2 separate regions of the Homo sapiens genome follow, and region 2 is linked to region 1. A link means that fine-mapping ties the variant in region 1 to the expression of a gene that starts in the linked region. Tissue or cell type: subcutaneous fat. Region 1 holds a variant in brackets; the other region holds the start of a gene. All regions are shown on one strand. Distances are from middle to middle.

Region 1 (5,000 bases):
GCCCCCAAGAATAAACTACTAGCAATCTGAACATTTACTAGCTTTAGTTTCCAGAATATTTAACATGTATCTCATTATGAGAGACAGGTTATATTGAAAGAAATGTATTTGTATTACCATATCCTCCAGGGAGCCCCTCTGGGGTAAATATGTGGGCTTATAATCAAACATACAGAAAAGTTAAAAGAATTGTACAGTGAACACCTATGTATCTACCACAAAGAATCTACATAAATCCCATTTTAAAATAGATTCATTTAAAAATACCAGAAAGTAAAGAACCAAGTACCTCTGTCACCTTAAATCCTGCCTAATCTTTATCCATAATACCAAGTAACCATTCCTTCTCCAAGATTTTAGTTATTTTCCATCTCTCTTCCCCTAATGTTGTCACATTTCATATCCCATACTAACAGCTGCCATGGTGAGATACAACAGCTTGGAAATTAATTTTAATTCATTTTCCATGTGATTGATTTCCAAATAGTGGATCACTATATAACTGATTACACGAGTTCTGACTCCTACTACCTGCTTGTCTGTCAGTAACCTCCTGGATCAGTGCATGCTGACTCTATCACTAAGGTTTTTCTACTAGTCTAAATACAACTCAATCTTTGATAGCACGACTGTTGCCAGAAGCAAAAATAAGTTTCCACCAAAATATAATTGAACCTCTGTAATGTATACACCTTCATGCATCAGTGTGCTCTCTAGTCAAGGAAAGATAAGCTGCTTAAAGATTTCTTTCAAGTGGGCTAAATCCTACGTCCATTGTATTGTCCATTACTAACGGAGGGTGAAAATGGGATATAGGGGATTTTTATATACAGTTTTCTGTCTCCAGTGCTGTATTTATGCTTTGAAGTAACTCTAGAAGCTGTGTTTCACATGTATGTGAATGAGGCTGTTGTAACAGAAACTACTTCTTATTCTATCCACATACTCATCCGACCTTTATAAGGTTGTTACAGTGTCTGCCTGATAGGCTTATTGTTTGATATCCTGTCAGAACTTCATAACAAGCACAACATTTTTGTCCTATATAAACGATTCTTTCCAGATCTGTTATAGTATCCAGCATGTTACAGATACTGTGATTGAAATAAAACTGAAAATATCAATCACCCTTCCCAAAACGTAAGCTGCCTTCTGCTGTTTCTTCTTTCTCTACCATCATTCTTGTGCCGTACCCTTTTTCTTGCTGTCTTTTGCTAAAACTAGCCTACCATATCAAATAGTATAACTTAAAAAAAAAATCTCAGCTCAAATTTAGTGTGAGGCCCTTTTATGTTTTAAATGCCCTTATGCTGGGGCTAGGGAACAGCGTAGTGTAGGAGGCAGTTTAAAGTAAGTGGGGTTTTTTGTTTGTTTGTTTTTTGTCTTTTTTTTGTTTGTTTTTTTTGTTTGTTTGTTTTGCAAACAGCAGGGACTAACATGCCAGGAAATATTGCTTTTTCCCCTCAGTTGCAAAGTTCTCTATGGAATTAAGGCTTCACACTCCACCCCATAGTCTGAGTTTCATGGCAAGCATAAAACCTAGCTGCTCGGATGCTATTTTTAGTAGCTCATGTTGACTGAAGGGCTAATTTCCATGACTCTTTTAAAAAACACATTTTTCACTGAATAACCAAAGCCCACTAAATCCTCTGTTACAGCAAAGGAGACAGCCTCTCTACCTAGCTTTTAATTCATAGGAGTAGGAGAGCATAATTATGTGAGGCTGTCAGGCACCGCCACTGATGATCTCCTGGGTCTTTGTTGCAGACAGAGCAAGCGAATGAAAAAATGAACGCCAAGCTAGAAGAGCTCAGGCAGCATGCGGCGTAAGTTGCCCACCAGATATTTGTTAGCAACCTATAGCATCTTAGTATATAATCGTGGAGCCTCTGGCCTTTGTCATATGAATAACCCTTGGGTTCTTTTTGTTTGAATTTTCAGCTGCAAACTGGATCTTCAAAAGCTAGTGGAGACTTTGGAAGACCAGGAATTGAAAGAAAATGTAGAGATAATTTGTAACCTGCAGCAATTGATTACCCAGTTATCGGTAAGCCAAGTAGGGGCAGTGTAAATAGGCATATCACTTTCATTTGTTTCTCTTGACACATACAAGCCTTTCTAGCTCTGTGCCTTTTGCTGAAACAACTAGATTGTGAGCCGCTTTTGGACAGAGGTCGTGGATCATTTGATATGATCTGAATATTGAGTTTGTTAAAACACTCATAGGTTACATATACAATGCACATTAGTATTTCAGTATTCTAATCAAATAACAGAAGCAACAACATAGCAGTGCAAAATTGCCTAGGTAGCAAGAGCAGCAGTCATTGATTTGCTGTCCTCACAGTGTAGGCTAACTTAAAAAGAGGACTTGTACCATACCCCAATTTTAAATAAGCTAAATTCTGACAGATAGCTTAAGGCAACCAGGGAATACCATAAGCCTCTTTTATAACCAATAATAAGTAAGTTTGAATGATTGTTCTACCATAAGTTCCCATTTTTGTTTATTTTTAGAACCATTATAGTAGTGGCAGGTGTGTTTTGGGGGTGGGGTGGTTATTTGTTGTTTTTCCCAGAAGAAAAATTTTCACAATCCCACTATCCCTAAAAATCTATTTTTGTTTTGGTGTTCCATCTCTTAGTCCTTAGGCATATATGCTTTT[A/T]AAAAAAACATTGAAATCGTACTATAACATACTATGTTAAGTGGTAATGGTTGGTTTTGTTCTGTCTACACTCTGTTGTTTATTATTCTGAAACAGTGATGTGTATGCAGATGCCTGGTGGTAATTCCTAGCTCTTGGGCAGAGATTTTAATTTTACCAGAACCATGAGACTGTAGTCCCTGGTCTTGCCCAGTGTTTTCTAGAGTTGTCAATAGTGTGTCACAAAATTATCCACACATAGATTTATTCTTGAAGAGAATATTAAAAAAATGCCATGCAATATTGTCAGGACTTGTTATGATGGCCAGCTCTAAGAAATTAAATGAGTAAACTCCCCAAAGACTATTAGGCAGTGTTTTAGAATAAGGAGTACTGTAAAGCTATCATGAGCAGTCCAAGATGACAGCTCATTTATCCAACAAACAGGGTACAGTAATTGAGAGCCTGGGCTCTAGAGCCACACAGACCCTGGTTTGAAGCCAGTTCTGCCACTTCCTAGCTATGTAATCTTACTAAGTGCTGTATTACTATCAAAAGGAAAGAATTTAAGTGATTCAAATAGGGGTTAAAAGCATTATTCATCTGGGCGCAGTAGCTCTTGCCTGTAATCCCAGCACTTTGGGAGGCCAAGGTGGGCGGATCACCTGAGGTCTGGAGTTCAAAACTAGCCTGGCCAAAATGGTGAAACCCTGTTTCTACTGAAAATACAAAAATTAGCCAGGTGTAGTGGCATGCACCTGTAGTCCCAGGTACTTGGGAGGCTGAGGCAGGAGAACTGCTTGAACCCAGGAGATGGAGGTTGCAGTGAGCCGAGATTGTGCCACTGCACTCCAGCCTGGATGACAGAGCGAGACTTCATCTCAAAAAAAAAAAAAAAAGAAGAAGAAGAAGCATTATTTAGCTGATGCACTCAGGGTACACTTGAACTCCAGGTAACTTCCCAAGTAAAGCAAGATTGGAGCTTTATAGAGTAAAGAGAAGAAAGGGTTGTATGTCCGTGTGGTTTAGCTCAGGTAACAGTTTTTAATGTTAATTGATGTGAAACTTTTGGTTGGAGATTGTTTCATTTTTTTATACCTCTTCCTCAGGAATATACTGATGCAATCCTATCCGGATAACTGTTATTATATTTTGAGAGTTGTTCTTACAAGCCTTGTAGTTTCTCAGTTGGTCAAGGTTCACAGGTGGGAGAGGTGGCAAAATAGGGATAACGGGGAAAGGAGGCGAGGGTTGAAGGCAAGGAAAATTGGGAATCCTCTCTCGTGTGCTTTCTTTTATATCAGCAATGTAAGCAAAGTGCAGTGGGATCATAAAACAAAGGATGATTAACTGTTAGTCCAGAAAATTCAGGAAGGCATCATAGAAGAAACTGGGTCCTAAAAATGAACAGGAGTTTGCCATGCAGACAAAAGGGAAGGGACAGGCCAACTCTGGGCACACTGCTTACGAGTTAGCCCTGCTCCACAAGGAAAAATTTAAGAGCTTTTATATAAAATAAATAAGGTTTTTTAAAAAGGGACTAGACTATATATAGAGGAAAAGATATAGATAAAAGCAAAGAGGTATGAAAGTTTAAAAAATGGTAAGAACTTCAATGTGGCTGAAGTATAGAGTACTTGTTAGACAACGGCTATCACAAGGTTAAATTTCACAATTATAATGCCACTCAAATGCAACTGAAACATCTGATACATGAAAACCTTGTGTGAGCTGCCTCAGAATTAAGATAATCTAGGCTGCAGAAGCCCACTGGGGCCAAAACTTACAAGCTCAGAAATAGTGACCCAGGGTACCCACCATTGTTCATGGCCATCACACCAATCTTAGAGGATTAATACCACCTCATTTCTGGGGCTTCGAGTCACATAGAAAAGATGAAGGAAACCCGTGGAACCAAATTAATAAAATAAAGCATCCTCAGTGAGAATCTGGCAATATGACTGGTGCCTGGTGTGCCTGTAGAGGGAGTTGCTAGTGGTGGCTGGCTCAGAGGAACTCCGTAGAATCGCTGTGTCTGCCACTTAAATGTACTTGGCACACACAGTAGGAGGGTGCTAAAGATTGCCACAAACTGATAAAGTTCCTGGCTTCCATCCACTGTCACAGTTAGGCAGAGTAAGCCCTTTTATCCAGGAGTCCTGCTGGACTCCTGAATCAGAGTTCTCCACATCTATTGTTCGGAGACCCTCCCAGCTATATATTTTTTTGGAAATACACAACAATGTATCCCATGGCTTTTATTAAGACTCACTACAGTGAAAGCAAAATGTTTCAAAAGTAAGTGCTTGTGCCCTTCATTCTGGATTAAAACTATTTTTATTTTAAGTGACTAGT
Region 2 (5,667 bases), 84 kb before region 1:
TTTTTTTTCCTTCAGTCCAGCCCCAGCCCTACTCTACAGAGAGAGACGCTTAGAAGCCAATAAGAGTTAGTATCATTAGATAAGTAAGAGATCAGAGACAGGTTAGCAAGGGTGGGAAAAAAAGAAAGGCAAGGCTGGGGTCTGACTCAGGAGACCAACAGGCTGGAAGGTGATTTCAGAGGGAGAAGGCCTGTAAGTGTGAGCCCACCCTTCTCAAGAATGCCTGCCAAGAAATTCTTACTTCCCAAGGCTTAGGGGTTAGCTTCTCAATTTCCAATGCACCCCCCTCCCCTCTGCAACTTGATCCAATAAGCCTGTAAGTGCTAAGATGGCACTGGAAGAGAGAAGCAATGAATGGGTGGGAAACTTTAAAAAGAACCTTCCCAGTCCTAGTGCTCCACCCTGGCCTCAAAGTCCTGAAGCCTGATCTGAAAGAGCTGGTGACAGATTTATCATTTATTTGGGGCAGGACCTAGAGAAAGTGGAGAGATCAGTGAAACACTAGCTCTGGGCGTCAATTCTTGTCACCACCTTCCTCTGCACAAATCTGCTCTACTCCTCAATGCTAGAACTTACAGCCATAGACGTGAGAGCTCCACCCCCTCAGTCTGAGCCATCCACTTGTCCTTTTGTTAAGTACAGGAGAGCTGTCATATACATGTTCTCAGCAAACATCATAAAGAAGGTCCAGTCCCATTCCTGTCCCAAAGGCTGTTATCAGCTAAGGTCCCCACCCTATCACAGGACTTTAATTCATGCTGCACACCAGTTCAACAGTGTCAGGCCCCCAGCTACATGCGGGGACCCTGGCATGCAGGCTCCCTGGGATCACACCCTATTCCAGCATCTTGGTAAGCAAGACTATGCTGTCTTTGAGAGAGAACCAGGAAGTCAGTGTGGGTGCTACATATGGCACATCCTCGGCATCTGTGATATGGAAGTTGCCTCCACTTCCTGATTCTGGTTATCACCATCAGATACGTCAGGCCAATCCTGAGATGACTCTGCCTGATCCACCCCTTCAGCTGAATGCTCTGGTCTGGGTAGAGAAACACATGCTATAGGAGGCTGTGGGGGAAATGGGACAGGGAAAGAGGACTGGGGAAGATTTTCAGGAAGATTGTAGGACCAATGGCCCCAGGAAGGAACAGAAACAACGAGAAAGGAGTAGAAGATTGGCATTGGCTAAAAAGAGTCGGCAACTGAAGGGGTTATGAGAGATGAGGTCACCCATGATATCCCTGCCTCCCTGCAACCCTCAGGGTGAGGGCTTCTCTCCAGAGCCTGGAAAAGAGGAAGAAGCACCTTACCAGGTATCACTATTGGGTTCCCTCACCTCTGCCCTGCACTCATCCCCTTTTCTCTCACTTCCCGGCTTCCCGTGTTACAATCTATCTGCCCTAGGAGTAGAGCAGCTACTGTCCTGGGGGGTGGCCGCCCACCTGCAGCTGCTATCCTCAGGCAGGGACACTAGTGCCAGGGAAGAGGCAGCCGTGCGGGGCTGGGGCTTGCCACCACCACAGAGCTGACGGAGCTGACGTCGATATTTGTCCCCAGTGAGCAAGTAGAGCACAGGATCCAGGCAGCTGTTGGCACTGGCCAGGGGCCGAGTCACTTTATAGACCACGTTGACAATGTTCAGTACTCGGCAGTCAGCTTCCAACAGCCTGGCCAGGTAGTAAATGGTGCGGGTGATGTGGAAAGGCACGAAGCAGACAGCAAAGACAGTCAGCACCACAGCTATGGTGCGGAGAGAGCGGAGGCGAGAAGACGACTGTGCAGAGCCTGGCAAGGGCTGATACAGGCGACGAGCCATGAGTCCATAGCAAACAAGAGTGACCAGGCAGGGCACGCCAAAGAGCAGCCCCATGACCGCCGAGCTGAAGTGCACATAGTGGTCAAACTCTTCAGGCCGAGTGGTGTCATGGCACAGGACGGTGGTCCCTTTGTTGCTGGTTGTGACAAAGAACAGGTTGGGCACGAGGCAGCCGGCTACGACCAACCAAACTGCCAGGCAGAGAAGGCCTGCGAGGCGAGGGCGGCCCCAGCGTAGTGCCCGAAGTGGGTGGCAGATGCCCAGGTAGCGGTGCACGCTGATGCAGGTGAGGAAAAGGACACTGCAGTAGAGGTTCCAATAGAAAAGAAAGCGGACGAACTTGCAGATCTCAGTGCCAAAGGGCCAGTGGTTGTGGGCTGCATAATAGTAGATGAGGGTGGGCAGCGACAGCACATACAAGGTGTCTGACAATGCCAGGTGGAACATGTAGGTGGCCGTTGCATCCCAGGGTCGGAGGCGGAAGATGAAGAGCCATAGGGTTGGGGCGTTAAGGCCCAAGCCCAGCACAAAGACAACTGCATAGCTCACAGGCAGCAGGATGAACTTGAAATCCTCATCAAACCAACAGTCCAGCTCCACCTCACTGCTGCCAGGACCTGGGCTGAGGCCTAGGGATCTCAACAGGGAGGACTCTGTACTGGCCATGGCCCCCCTGGAGATGGGAAGGGGAGAAGTGAGGGTGGCAGGATTTCCCTGCCCACCCCCATCCCTGAGCTGGAGCAAAAAAAGTAGAGCAGGGAGAGCAGTGGTTGAAGCACTAGGGAGAGCTGACAGAAGCGCATCTGGGTGCACTCAGGCTAGCCTGGCCCCTACCCAAGCTCCCTTGGTCCAGCTTGGGAAGTGGTGGGCAGCAGGCAGTGCTGGGGCTCAGGCAGGCAGCCCGTGTATTTGGGTTGTACTCACTCTGCAGCTCACTCTGTCCCTAAGAGCCTGGCTGGCTGAAGAGGGTGGAGGCCTCCCAGCACTATCCAAAGTGGGAAGATACCCAGACCCAAAGTGTCTTCTGACTCGTCATCACAGCTATATCCCTGGAAGAGGAGTGTCTCTCCCCACAGTGCCTTCGCCTCTCCTAGTGCCCTGGTCACAGTGTCTCCAGATGACATTTACCTATGACACCTTCCCCACTGCCTGCCTACAGCCCAGGAGCCCCATTGCCACCCTTGCCCAAGAACGTTGGCACATCTCCTACCTGGTCCCCTTGAAGCTGAGCTCAGCTGACTCTGTCACCCTTCCCCTTGGCAGCCAGAGGGCATATCCAAGGAGGTGGAGTTGGAGGTGGGGCCTGTCCCTCCTCCCACCTGGGAGATTAAAAGAGTTAGAAAGGCCCTTTACGATGACCTAGTCCAACCCACTCATTGTACAGATTGGGAAACTGGGGCCCAGCGAGATTACTATTTAACAGCTTTGAAATGACTGCAGGAGGGAGAACACGAGGAAACATCCAAGTTTACTGATGAAGAGCCAGGTCCCTGGAGATAGATTACAGGGGGATCATACAAGCCTGTGTAAGTGAGCAGAAACATGGGAAACGAATTTTCACATGGGCAAGTGCAAGACAACACATTGAAAGATTTTAGAAAATCTAAACTACTGATATTTAATATAAATCTCATATGCATATAATTACAAAGAATGCTTATATAGCACTTACTATGTGACAGGCATTTTTCTAAGTGCTTTATACTTATTAATGACCCCATAGGCTCTCTATGAGCTAGATACTATTATTGTCTCTGCTTTGCTGATGAAAAAATGAAGGCACAGAAAGTTTAGGTGTCTTGCTAGTTAGTGGTAGAGTCAAGATTTGAACCAAGACAGGCCTGCCTTTGGATCAGGCTCTAGCATCCATAACTTAATTGCTATGCTTAAGTTGCCTCTCTAAGCCACTGGCTATGATCCAGGAAAGAATCAACAAATATTTATGGCAGACAGAGGCAGGCAGATCGCTGGAGCTCAGGAGTTCAAGACAAGCCTGGACAACGTGGCAAAACCCTGTCTCTACAAAAAATTAGTCGGGCGTGGTGGCATGCACCTGATGTCCCAGCTACATGGGGGGCTGAGGCAGGAGGAGTGCTTGAACCTGGGATGTTGAGGCTGCAGTGAGCTGTGATCGCGCCACTGCACTCCAATCTGGGTGACAAAGTGAGACCCTGTCTCAAATATAAATAATTTTTTTAAAACCACGAATATTTACTGAGAGCCTACTTTTGCCTGGTCCAGTTCTAGTTACTGGTAGTTCCTTAGGAGTGGACAAAATAGATAAAAACTCCCACCCTAATGGTGCTTACATACTACTGGGGGATAATAAAATTAATAAGTAAAATATGTAGATTGTGATCATCATTATGGAGAAAAATTAAAGAGGGAAGGAAAAGGGTAATAAAGAGGGAAGGAAAAGGGTAATAGAGAGGGTTGTTGTTTTAAATATTAGGAATGAAACCAGGCACAGTGGCTCACACCTGTAATCCCAGTGCTTTGGGAGTCGGAGATAGGAGGATCACTTGAGCCCAGCAGTTTGAGGTTGCAGTGAACTATGGTCAGACCTCTGCACTCCAGCCTGAATGACAAAGCAAGACCCTGTCTATAAGTAAATAAATAAATATTAAGGGTGACTTTTGAATAAAGGCCAGGTGTTGTGAGAAGGGGAAAAGTAAAAAATGAGGTCAGAGAGTTTGGCAGGGACCAGATCATGAAGGTCCTTGGAGGCCATTGTAAAGGACTCTTTGGTGAACGGGAAGGCACTTAGGGTTTAGAGAAGAGAGGTGTCATCTGACTTACATTTTAGAAGGCTCACTGGCCAGCTCTATATTGAGAATAGACTGCAGGGCTGGAGGTACAGGGGGAAGACCAGTCAAGAGGCTATTGCTGATAGAGATGATGGTAGCTTGGATCACAGTGGTGGAGATGATGAGAAGTGGTCAAATTCTGGATAGACTTTTTTAAGTAGGGACAGCAAGATTTACTGATGTGGGGTATAAGAGAAAGAAGAGTCAAAAATTACTCCAAAATGTCCGGCCTGAGCAACTGGAAGAATAGAGTTACTGTTGACAGAGACAGGAGTGGGTTTAGGGGAAAGATTGGGAGTTCACTTTTCAGCCTGTAAATTTTGAGATGCCTATTATACATGTAAGAGGGGATGGCCAGGAGACAGTTCATGCCTCCTTAAGGATACCAGCCAATACATTTCCCATACAGACTCTACCCCTTTCTATACAGTACCCCTCGTCTCTCTTGATCACTCCCAGAGACTTGGTCTGAATATAGTGGAGAAGGTGCAGAGAGCAAGCCTAGATGTTTGAGAGCCTGGTGTAGGGAATTGCCAGCAGCTCAGGATCTGGGGCTCCTGAAGCCAACTAAGCCTCCGTAAGTATATCTTAGGCACTAGAGGCAAACCCGGTCTGGAGGACTCTGAGGATGAGGTAAGCAGTGCCTTTGGGGAGGGGTGAGCAGGCTGGAGCAGAATCCACTCTGCATGGAGCTGAGAAGCAATGGGGACTCTGAACTTACTTGATCCTCAGGTCCTGAGAATGTCACCCAGCTGGATCCTGGGAGTGAGAGGAGGAGGCGGACTTCTAGAATCTAGAATCTAGATCTCTCGGAAAGCCCAGAAACCTGGATGGGGAAACTGAAGATCCTTGCCCTGTGGCAGAGTAAAGGGTGGAATAAAAGGTAGCAGTGGAGGACACAGTCATAACCTGAGTCCTGGACAGCTGACTACTGTGACATTACATAAGAGGCCCAAGTTTTTGAAGCCAGACGGGCTGGTGTTTAAATCCTTGCTCTTCCACTTATTAGTTATGTGAGCCTGGGCGCCTCTTTGTAACTTCCAT

Alleles and levels. Alleles are on the strand shown, and positions count from the first base shown. SD is a standard deviation of normalised expression in the study named.
With allele A in place of T in region 1, the expression in subcutaneous fat of the gene that starts at base 3,062 in region 2 is lower (small effect, 0.35 SD a copy in GTEx).

The links. PIP is the estimated chance that this variant, and not a neighbour inherited with it, causes the effect.
Region 2: it holds the start of P2RY4, and the variant in region 1 is the best candidate, but not a certain one, in a credible set for the expression of P2RY4 in subcutaneous fat (GTEx, PIP 0.62).

What each region holds. Positions count from the first base shown.
Region 1 is chrX:70,341,936-70,346,935 of GRCh38, forward strand. It overlaps KIF4A (kinesin family member 4A), which reads left to right. Exons shown (of 31, transcript NM_012310.5): 12 at 1,768-1,826; 13 at 1,942-2,047. Among named protein-coding and RNA genes, the nearest start is that of KIF4A, 54 kb to the left of the region's middle. The variant A/T (reference allele first, on the strand shown) is at 2,667.
Region 2 is chrX:70,257,143-70,262,809 of GRCh38, forward strand. P2RY4 (pyrimidinergic receptor P2Y4) reads right to left here and starts at 3,062. Exons shown (of 1, transcript NM_002565.4): 1 at 1,024-3,062. The coding sequence starts at 2,482. The coding sequence ends at 1,385.